Linked DNA regions of Homo sapiens: all the other regions are linked to region 1. Evidence: fine-mapped expression QTL. A gene starts in region 1. Each other region holds a variant in brackets. All regions are shown on one strand. Distances are from middle to middle.

Region 1 (2,684 bases):
TGACAAATATTGATGCCCAAAGTGTCTGCGCTCTCCCGCCCCCAAACGTTAAGAAAAGACGCCAGCGAAAGGGAGACATAAAAAGTTAACAATGCTGTGAAAATATGTTTGCAGAAAATAGACAATCGTTGGATTAAACGTATTCAAGTATGAAATAATGCCTTTTTGTGTCAAAACTTGGGCGATGGGCGGGTACAAAAGTTCCCTGTGGCAGCTACTTGCTCCCTTTGTGAGCCGTGCGCTTTGGCGTCTCCACTTGGGCGCATTACTCAGAGCCCTCTAAGCGCGATTGTTTCTCCCTTTCTAATGACATTTACCGGATCAAAACATGCTGTTAATTCGATCAGAAGGCTTCACCCTCCCTGACAAAGCCACAATAATTTCTCCTGAAGTTTGTTAAATTGACCAAAATTAGGCAAATGAATAGGGGTCTGTAGGCGCCCCCTCTCGCAGGTGACGTTGCATAATGCTTGCCTGGGCCAGCTGCATTCCCCCTTTTCTTCTCGGCCCACTCTTCTCCGTGTTGCCCCCCAATCCTCCCACCCGCCCCTTCACACACAAACACACACACACGCCCGCCAGTCTCTCCTCCCCCACCCTCTGGCATTATTAAAATTTAGCCCAATGAAACTATTCATACTTTTCAATGGACATTTTCGTATAGGATAATAGGCTACAAATTGAGCCTCTTCCCCCCGCGAAGAGGGAGCAGGAGGGGTGGGGAGAAAAGAAAGCCAGCGACGTGGTCAGGGAGTAGGGGGGAGCGTCGCGTGCCAAACAGCGGCGGGAGGGGCGAGGCGAGGCGAGGCGGGAGCCTCGTGTGCCAGCCGCAGCCCCACACCTGCCGGGATGTCCGGACAAATAAAGCGGTGTAAACAAAAAGGGGGGAGAAGGACGTGTCACCAAGTCGTGTGAGAAAAGCCTGGGAACAAACGGGGCGCCTCCGTCTCCAAGAGCTCTCCCTTGAACCCGGCGGAACAGCCTATTAAAGGCTTACTTAATTACTTTAATGACTCTGGACAGGCTTTAAAACGCACTCGGCGCTGGGACGGCGGGCTTGCTGGGATTTGTAAACAGGCGATCATGTGAGACTCAGCGGTGGGACTAAAAGAGGCGACACTGTTTTGTGAGGGTCCTCGCCCCCCGGTGCCCGCGGCCGCTGCGCCCCTGCGCTCCGCGCCCGCGACTGCTGCAGGCGCTTGCTCGCCCGCCGGCCCCAGTTTACCGCCTCCTTTTCCCGCCCGAGCTGTTGCCATGCAAATGTTATTCCTGGGCCGATCACGTGTCCTTTGAAGGGCCACGTGGATTAACAAAGCTGATCTGCCCCCAGCTCGCCCCCCTCGGCTGCTAATTTTTTTTTTTTCTTAACTTCTTTAAAACTGATCTTGAATGCATACATCCTCCAAACGCAGCTCCCCTAATCCTATGGAATAATTCAACTCGTGAATGCATCTGGAGCCCTAGATGACCGCTTTATAAGGCAGCCCTCGGAGTTGGGAGGCTGCAGTCTACCTGGGACACTCGAGGAGGCACACGAGGCGGAAAAGTGGACGGGTGCCCCGCGCCACCGCCTCTCCCGAGGGCGCGTACTGACCAGGATGTCAGACAAGCTCAAGGAACGCAAAGTGAGTCGGCTGAGCCCAAATGGCACTTGCGCCCTGGTGGTGGAGGCATCTGACTCACCGACCCGCCACTTGGGTGGACCGATGGCAGGGAAGTGCCCGCACGGGACTTTGAGTGTGGAGGAATCTCGAGTGGTTTGGGAAGGGGGTGGGGTAGAGAGAGGAGGGTGCTCAACCAGGTAGAAGTCCTGCCTGGAGGCTGGCGGCCACCTCCCCAAAGGCCTGGGTAGGGTGGCTGGAAGGGGAGCGCGCCAGCGCGGGCGTCAGAAGGCAGAGCTCACCTGGCCCGAGCGTGGCGGGCCAGGAGTCCCTTCCTAGAGCGAATCTGAGCAGTGTGCGCGGCTGGAGAGGCGGCTTGCACCCAGCTGCTAGAGCCGCGCCTTTGACGACTTCCCGGGCAAAGCCATCCTAAACATACAACCCTCTCTTCGCAGAGAACCCCCGTTTCTCATAAAGTGATAGAAAAGCGGAGGAGGGACAGGATCAACCGCTGCTTGAACGAGCTGGGCAAGACAGTGCCCATGGCCTTGGCGAAGCAGGTAACGTTGGCGACCCGGAGCCGGGTGCCAGGCGTTGGGAGGCCTCTGCGGCCACTCTGCGGAGACGCCCGAGCCCGCGGACACAGAGGACCTCACTTGCGGGCCCCTCCCAGGCGGGGGGCCTGAGCGCAGGGCGAACCTCAGGAGGCTCTGGCGCAGATCCGCAGCCGCGTCCGCTCGCTGGTCCTCTCCAGCGCCACAGTGCCCGACCAGCAGGCGCTGGGCCGCTGCGAGGGGCCCTTCCTCCTTTTGCAGAGTTCCGGGAAGCTGGAGAAGGCGGAGATCCTCGAGATGACCGTTCAGTACCTGAGAGCACTGCACTCCGCTGATTTTCCCCGGGGAAGGGAAAAAGGTGGGCACAGGTTAGGGAATGGGACGCCTGGGCCAGGCGCCTGCGCCACCCAGAGACCCTGGGGCTGGGAGGGGAGTGACTGAGTGTTCCCGAGAGCTCTACTAGAGCTCCACTCTCCAGGAGGGCAGGGGTCCTGCGAAGGCGCCTCTCCCTGCTCGGCGACAGCAAGGC
Region 2 (2,684 bases), 33 kb before region 1:
AGGAAGCCCCGCCCCTCCACGGCCCACCGGGCAGGAAGCTTCCCACTGTGGCTGACTCTTCCCCGCACCTGCACTCCGGGAAGGATGTGCAGGGACGCAGCCCTCCAGATGGGCTTTGCAAACCAAGGGGACACCTAGTGATAAAAGGGATGAAAAGCAACCGTGACAGGCCCAGAATGTTCTTTTGAGTCTTTCCTTTTTCTTTATTTTTCAGGGTTTGTAAAATGTATTGTTTAGGATGAAGCACTACAGATCAGAGCCTCACCACGTGTTTTCGATCTGGTGTTTCTAGGGAAATTGGCTTTGATCGCCGTTTCAACTGCATTGGATCTATGAGGGCGTATTTAAAAACAAAACAAAAAAGCTTCTTTTCAGAATTCTCCATCATCATCCTTAAAACGTATTTTTAGACATCTTATAATTTGCAGGGCACGGTTAGTACTTGGCAAAATAGAGGCAACAAGAAGTTGGGGAAGGAATCTCAGCTCGTGTTCAGAAACTGCAGTTTCATTCCGGCCCCATGGCATGTCTCTGTGGCTTTGGGAAAGTCAGCCATCTCTCTGAGCCTCAGTGTCCTTAGCTGTCACATGAGGCTATGGAACTACAGGATCTAACATTGTATAAATGGGTGATAAATAGTCTTGCAATTGATTATTATATAGACGTCTTGGGGGCTGGTAGAAATGAGAGGGGCTGGAGGTGGAAGAAAAACAGAATTTGTCCTTGGTAACCTTTCTGGTGCATGAGCACTAGTCATGTGGGGACCAGGGAATGGACACCCGTTTCCATTTTGCAAGGCTACCTATGAATTATGCATGTCGTACACACAGGCAAAAGGGATGGATAATTACCAGTTTGACCTCTGAGAAGAGAGACACTGGGTGAAAGGAATGTTGTTTGCTAGAAAGGGTAGAACAGGGGGTTTTCAGATCTGTTTAATAAAGGAACTTTACTAATCATCTAGTCTACACCCACCCACCTAATAGACAAATAAAGCAACACTCAGAGTGATTTAAGTGATTGGATCAAGAGCACACCATTAGTGGTAAAGTCAGAGGAGTCCAGTGCTAGGAAAAGCCATTCTAAATAACAAGAAACCCATGGCTTTTACAACCAACTCATG[T/C]GATGCTAGACAGTCTGGTTTCCACATCAATGTTGACAAAAGTCATGTAAAGCAACGTAAAAATGTGACAAATGTTACCAACCATTGTCTGTGCATGCTTCAGTCATGCGCAGAGCCTTGGATATCCTTGAGAGAGCAGAAGAGAGACATGGTACCTAGGTCCCCAGGGAGAGGGAGAGGCAATTCTTGGGATGCTATTTGTTTCTTGGACACAGAGTCTAACCAAGGACCGAGGCCCGTGTCCTCTAGAATTTTGGACTAAGTCACAAAACTTTTTATTTTAAAATTTCTAATATTTGTATCCAACAAATAGAATGCCTATACCACTGAACTTTTCTCCCCAAGTTTTTGCATAATGAAAGAGGTCAACATTACTAGCCTCATCTCTTCACTCTCCTCCTCCCTCACCTTCCACTTGCTGGTAGCCTCCTTGTCCCTCCCTGAAGATGGCAACCACAGCGTCTCCGCACCTCAGCACCTACACGCAGGCTGCTCCTCTGCTCAGGATACTCCAGAATCTACCCCATCCACTTCTCGGTCATCTTCAAGTTTCTGCTCAAATATCATCTTCACTGGAGGCCTTCCCTGACCATCCTATCTAGGATACAACCCCACTCCTGGTTCCTTTTCCTTTGCATTTTTTTTTCCTTGACACTCATCACCTTCTAATATTTTCAGTTTTGTGTGTCTCCCTTCAAGTGTGTAACCTTCATGAAGATCAGGGCTTGGCTCTGTTTTGTTCCCTGTGATGCGCACAGGTCCCAGCATGGTGTCTGCCAGATAGCGCTGGATATTTTTCTGAGTGCACACAAGCTTTTCTTCACTTTCTGGTTTTTGTTCCTGCTTGCCTCTGCCTTCTAATCTCTTTCCCAGACTTGCTCAAGTCTCACCCCCTAACTAGAAGTGGATTCATTAACTTCACAGCTAAAAGAGCATCGTTTCCAGTGTCCTCACTTGAGAAAACCAAAAAGGCTAACGGCACAGACCCAGGACTTGAACTTGGATGTTATGTTGCCTCCCAGCCACGGCTCTCCCCACAGTCCCGGATTCCTCCAGCCTGGTGTGCACCTTCCTTCTTCCCCCAGGTCTGGCCCTGTCTACCTGTATGTGCCACGCCTTCTTACACCTCATCTGAGCAACGCTGAATCCTGATTCTGCCACAACTTAAGCATGTGGCCTTGGACAAGTGACTTAACTTCTCTCGGCCTTGGGCTTCTGCCTTCTCAAGGGAAGAGTAACATCTACCTCAGAAGATGTTCACAAGGCTCAATTAAAATGAAGGAAGCACAGCCCTCTCCTGGCCAAGGCTCAGTGCCTGGCTGTTCCTTTTCCTTTCTCTGGCTTGTGCGGAGATGGTCATTTGCTCAACAGAAATGTTAAGTTTCTCAAGGTCTCTCTGTTGTCCCCATCCCCAGGCCTAAGCTCCTAGAAGACAATGAAGAAATCCTTGGGGAATGAAAATGAGTTTTAAAGGGAGGATGGCAGGAAGAAGGGCCTCTATAAGGTGGGCATCTCACTATCAGGGCTGGCTCATGGATTCTAGCTTGCAGGCCTGGCACCC
Region 3 (2,684 bases), 37 kb before region 1:
AGAGACAACACTAGACTCCCAGCTTCATGAGGGAAGCGGCCAAGTGTGCCTTGTTCACGTCCACATGCCGGGAGATAAGCCGTGCCTGGCAGATGGAAGTCACTCCTTCAGAGTTTGTGGACTGATGGACAGACGGAAGAGAGAGCACAGAGCAGGCAGGGTGTCTGGAAGCCCCCCCGGGCCTGCAGCCTGCTGCTCCTGCAGATCTCTGAGGGGCTGCTGTTGCCATCATCCACATGGCCCCTTCCAGCCTCCTCTGCAGACAAGATTCCTTCCTGCCTTCCTTGTTGTCCCGCAGCCTCTTACGGTCAACCTCATCATGTAAGAGACCTGGATGGTTTTCTGGTTCCTGACAGCTCAGAGACCCCAACAGAGAAATGGTCAAGAAAGAACAAAGTAAAAGTCCTCCACGAGCCAGAGATGACCATTGTTTCCTCCTGAAAGCGTATTGTTCTGTGTTCTGCTTTTTAACACTAAACAAGTGAAATATTTCCACGCCACAAGTAGCCTTTCAAAATGCAATGTCAGTGGTTACATTTGGTTGCTCCATTCTTTAGGGTATCAGATGTTAGATGTTAGACATTCTGGTTTTTCTTGGAAGCTCGCTCTGTAAATAAATGATTCAACTTCTGGAATCATTCATGTGAAGACCAACATTCATTTGCATGTCTGCGCCCTGTGGTCCACACAGACCTGCACATGAATGTTTTAGCTGCTTTATTCCTGATTGCCAGACACCAGAAACAACCCAAATGCCCACCGATAGGAAAATGGGTCAACAAACTATAGGACAACACAATGGAATACTACTCACCAATAAAAGGAGCAAACAACCCATGAATGCAATACCATGGATGCATCGAAAAACATTTGCTAAATGACAGAAGCCAGGTGCAGATGGCCACACCTGTAATTCCATTTGTGTGACGTTCACAAAAGGCAAAACTACAAGCTGCAAAGCAGATCAGCGCTGCCAGGGGCTAGGGATTGCGGCAGGGGATTGACCACAAAGGGTAGCATGGGTGAACTTTTTGGAATGATGGGAAGCTTTTTTATTATGGGGGTGGTTACATGACTGTATACGTTTGGCAAAACTTATCCAGCTGTCTACCTTATAAGGATCAATTTTATTGTATGTAAAGTATACCCCACCTAAATCTGACCCGAGAAAAATAATAATGTAATGTAGAATATTCCTTTTATGGATCTCTATTTGAATATCTATGAGTATATCCTTTGGATATATTTCCAGAAGTAGAATCATCGGATCCAAGTGCATGAACATTTTAAAATCACACGTGTATTTTTACAAGGCCTTCTTTGGAGGCAGTGCTTTAAAGGAGTGTCCACGGGGCTTTCAGGAATCCTGGCACATGGAAGGGAGCAACCACGAGTGTTTTGCAGAAGTGAGGGAGGGCAGTCCTGTTGCTGCCTCTTACATCCCACCACAAAACATAGGCGACTATAGGACCTCTCTGCTTCCTGACCTCTGAAGTGTCAGGAATAAGCTGCCTCA[T/C]TGACTCCCATCACTCCACCCCAAAGGCCAGAGCTCAGCACTGCCCAGCGTGGTACAATTGAACTTCCTGCCATGGCGGGAACTGTTCTGCATCTGTGCTGTCACATACACTAGCCACAAGTCACTACTGAGTACTGGAAATGTAGTTAGTACAAATGAGAACCTGAATTTATTTTTTTCAAGTTTTGTTAATTAAAAATTAAATTTAAGGCCAAGCGCAGTGGCTTATGCCTGTAATCCCAGCACTTTGGGAAGCTGAGGTGGGGAGATCACTTGAGGTCAGGAGTTCGAGACCAGCCTGGCCAACATGGTGAAACCCCATCTCTAGTAAAAATACAAAAAATTAGCCAGGCGTGGTGGCATACACCTGCAATCCCAGGTACTCAGGAGGTTAAGACAGGAGAATCGCTTGAACCTGGGAGGCTTGCAGTGAGCTGAGATTGCACCACTGCACTCCAGCCTGGGTGACAGAGTAAGACTCTGTCGCTAAATAAATAAATAAATAAATAAATAAATAAATAAATTTAAATAGCCACATAAGACAGGGCACAGTGGTTCATAGCCTGTAATCCCAGCACTTTAAAAGGCTAAGGCAAGAGGATTGCTTGAGGCTAAGAATGTGAGACCAACCTGGGCAACATAACAAGATTCCCATTTCTAAAAAATAATTTAAAAATTAGCTGGGTGTGGTAGTGCATGCCTGTAGCCCGAGCTACTTAGGAGGCTGAGGCAGGAGGATCACTTGAGCATGGGATGTTGAGAGAGCAGTGAGCTATGGCCACACCACTGCACTCCAGCCTGGGCAACAGAGCGAGACCCTGCCTCTAAAAAATGAATAAATAAATAAATAGCCAGATGAAGCTAGTGGCTACCATACTGGACAGTGCAAGTCTACAACTCTAGACTTGCAGGAGAAATGGAAGGACCAATAAGTAGCTTGGCAGCCAGCATCCAGTGAGCCAGCTATAGGGCCCACTCTGACTCTCTCTAACCTTGCTGTGAACACTGGGCCTTCTGCCTTATACCCCAGTACCAGGAAACAGAGTCCTGTTTTGCTCCTCATGCTGGAGTATCTGCCTCAGTTCCCTGCCCCTGCTCCAGAGCTCCTGCCCTGCTCCCTACACCCTTCCCCGGAACGGGAATCCTGACCTTAGACCCCTTTGCAGGT
Region 4 (2,684 bases), 29 kb before region 1:
TCCTTGTGGGGAGGTGGGGGAGATCTGATCACAGAACAGGAGTAGGGACTGTGATGATGGTAGCAGAGACTGGAGGGACAGTTTGAAGGCAGAAGAAGGGGCCACAAGTGCAGGAATCAGGGTGACTGCTAGAAGCTGAAAGGGCAAAGCGATTCTGCCCTGGAGGCTTCAGAGGAGGCCAGTCCTGCCAACACTTCTACTTTAGCTCCATGAAACCGATTTTGGACTTCTGAATAAATTTGTGTCATTTGAAGCTACCAAGTTTGTGTAATTTGCTACAGAAGCAATAGAAAATGAATACATGCAGTATGATGAGAACATTCCCAGTCCACTCTGAGAAGGTTGTGCCGCCCAGATGAGTGCTGGTGACAGGGAGCCCGGGGTGGTGTGACAGGCTCATGTATGCAGCTGGGTCACCCCACATTCTGGGAACCACCCAGAGGTTTGCTCCGAGCATTGTCCTCGGTCACAGCTTCCTATGGAGAGAGTGGGGCCACATCAGTCTCCCACTCAGAGGTAAAGACATCTGTGTCTCCTGCAACGTCATCAGTTTGTCCCTGTGGCAAGCAGCAGGGAGTGACTGATTTGTGACACCACGCCTTACCTGTGTGACTTTCAATGATTGTTTTCCTAGGCAGCATTGCAGCTGAGCCGTCGGGCAAATGAGAGCCAAGCAAGTTGGAGCTGCCCGGGAACTGGATGTGCTTGCTTAGAAAACATTTCAACATTTCCAAGGGTATAGTTTCTCCCACATACTCTGGAACGCTTGGAAACCACTTTAATTAGCATTGTTTGCCTGTCTGGCTGCCTTGGGTCTTTGGTTTGCTGAGGGCTGCTTGGAGGCTATGCCCTCCTCTCCAGCCCCTGCGTTGGGAAGTCACAGGAGACCGGAGCTGCGCACGACATCACAGCGCCGAATTCTGACCCAATCTGAATCAAATGTCACCCATACCCTGTCTTCAACCAACAAAAGAGCAACGAAGCCAGAGACATCATCTTCAGCTGCCTTGGCCTGTAAGGAATTCATTCTGACTTGAGAGGTGCTTTAACACTTTCACATGTAATTGTGTCCAGAATTGGTGGGTTCTTGGTCTCACTGACTTCAAGAATGAAGCCGCGGACCCTCGCGGTGAGTGTTACAGCTCCTAAGGTGGCGCGTCTGGAGTTTGTTCCTTCTGATGTTCAGGTATGTTTGGAGTTTCTTCCTTCTGCTGAGTTCGTGGTCTCACTCGCTCAGGAATGCAGCTGCAGACCTTCACGGTGAGTGTTACAGCTCTCAAGGCAGAGCGCCTGGAGTTGTTCGTTCCTCCCGGTGGGCTCGTGGTCTCACTGGCTTCAGGAGTGAAGCTGCAGACCTTCGCAGTGAGTGTTACAGCTCATAAAAGCAGTGTGGAGCCAAAGAGTGAGCAGTAACAAAATTTATTGCAAAGAGGGAAAGAACAAAGCTTCCACAGTGTGGAAGGGGACCCCAGCGGGTTACCAATGCTGGCTCGGGCAGCCTGCTTTTATTCTCTTATCTGGCCCCA[C/T]CCACGTCCTGCTGATTGGTAAAGCCGAGTGGTCTGTTTTGTCAGGGCGCTGATTGGTGCGTTTACAATCCCTGAGCTAGACACAAAGGTTCTCCAAGTCCCCATCAGATTAGTTAGATACAGAGTGTCGATTGGTGCACTCACAAACCTTGAGCTAAACACAGGGTGCTGATTGGTGTGTTTACAAACCTTGAGCTAGATACAGAGTGCTGATTGGTGTATTTACAATCCCTGAGCTAGACATAAAGGCTCTCCAAGGCCCCACCAGACTCAGGAGCCCAGCTGGCTTCACCTAGTGGATCCTGCACCAGGGCTGCAGGTGGAGCTGCCTGCCAGTCCCGTGCTGTGCGCTCGCATTCCTCAGCCCTTGGGTGGTTGATGGGACTGGGCACCGTGGAGCAGGGGGCGGCGCTCATCAGAGAGGCTCGGGCCGCACAAGAGCCCGTGGAGGGGGTGGAAGGCTCAGGCATGGCGGGCTGCGGGTCCTGAGCCCTGCCCCCCCGGGAAGGCAGCTAAGGCCCGGCGAGAAATCAAGCGCAGCGCCGGTGGGCCGGCACTGCTGGGGGACCCAGTACACCCTCCGCAGCCCTTGGCCCGGGTGCTAAGTCCCTTATTGCCCGGGGCCAGCAGGGCCGGCCGGCTGCTCCGAGTGCGGGGCCCGCCAAGCCCACGCCCACCCGGAACTCCAGCTGGCCCGCAAGCGCCGCACGCAGCCCCGGTTCCCGCTCGCGCCTCTCCCTCCACACCTCCCTGCAAGCTGAGGGAGCGGGCTCCCGCCTTGGCCAGCCCAGAAGGGGGCTCCCACGGTGCAGTGGTGGGCTGAAGGGCTCCTCAAGTGCCACCAAAGTGGGAGCCCAGGCAGAGGAGGCGCCGAGAGCGAGCGAGGGCTGTGAGGACTGCCAGCACGCTGTCACCTCTCAAAATCACTACCTGCGCCTCAGATTTGACAGTGAAGTGTTAGGGGTTAGATTATGCAGTGTCAGGGCAGGCTATATGGAAGTGATAATGATGTCATAAATGACAAGTTGCATTTCTTTCTTCCAATGACATACTTGCAACTTAATCAATTGCCTTTTTATTTCCCCCAATCCACAGATTTGTTAAACTATTCTATCAGATGAATATTTTGCTTATGTTTTATGCAAAAGAGGACTCACA

Which allele goes with the higher level. Alleles are on the strand shown, and positions count from the first base shown. SD is a standard deviation of normalised expression in the study named. Not every link is listed here.
As copies of C replace T in region 2, the expression in sun-exposed skin of the gene that starts at base 1,160 in region 1 goes down (large effect, 0.84 SD a copy in GTEx).
With allele T in place of C in region 4, the expression in unexposed skin of the gene that starts at base 1,160 in region 1 is higher (large effect, 0.85 SD a copy in GTEx).

What was found. PIP is the estimated chance that this variant, and not a neighbour inherited with it, causes the effect.
Region 2: its variant is fine-mapped to the expression of HELT in sun-exposed skin (GTEx, PIP above 0.99). The same link has a PIP of 0.9 or more in testis.
Region 3: its variant is fine-mapped to the expression of HELT in unexposed skin (GTEx, PIP 0.93).
Region 4: its variant is fine-mapped to the expression of HELT in unexposed skin (GTEx, PIP above 0.99).

Annotation. Positions count from the first base shown.
Region 1 is chr4:185,017,331-185,020,014 of GRCh38, forward strand. HELT (helt bHLH transcription factor) reads left to right here and starts at 1,160. Exons shown (of 4, transcript NM_001300781.2): 1 at 1,160-1,625; 2 at 2,057-2,161; 3 at 2,417-2,513. The coding sequence starts at 1,599. RefSeq lists enhancers at 410-990, 991-1,569, 1,570-2,149.
Region 2 is chr4:184,984,091-184,986,774 of GRCh38, forward strand. No RefSeq gene overlaps it. Among named protein-coding and RNA genes, the nearest start is that of LINC02437, 3.9 kb to the right of the region's middle. RefSeq lists an enhancer at 1-199. The variant T/C (reference allele first, on the strand shown) is at 1,124.
Region 3 is chr4:184,979,864-184,982,547 of GRCh38, forward strand. No RefSeq gene overlaps it. Among named protein-coding and RNA genes, the nearest start is that of LINC02437, 8.1 kb to the right of the region's middle. The variant T/C (reference allele first, on the strand shown) is at 1,517.
Region 4 is chr4:184,988,207-184,990,890 of GRCh38, forward strand. It overlaps LINC02437 (long intergenic non-protein coding RNA 2437), which reads left to right and starts at 1,141. Exons shown (of 2, transcript XR_001741949.1): 1 at 1,141-1,260. The variant C/T (reference allele first, on the strand shown) is at 1,527.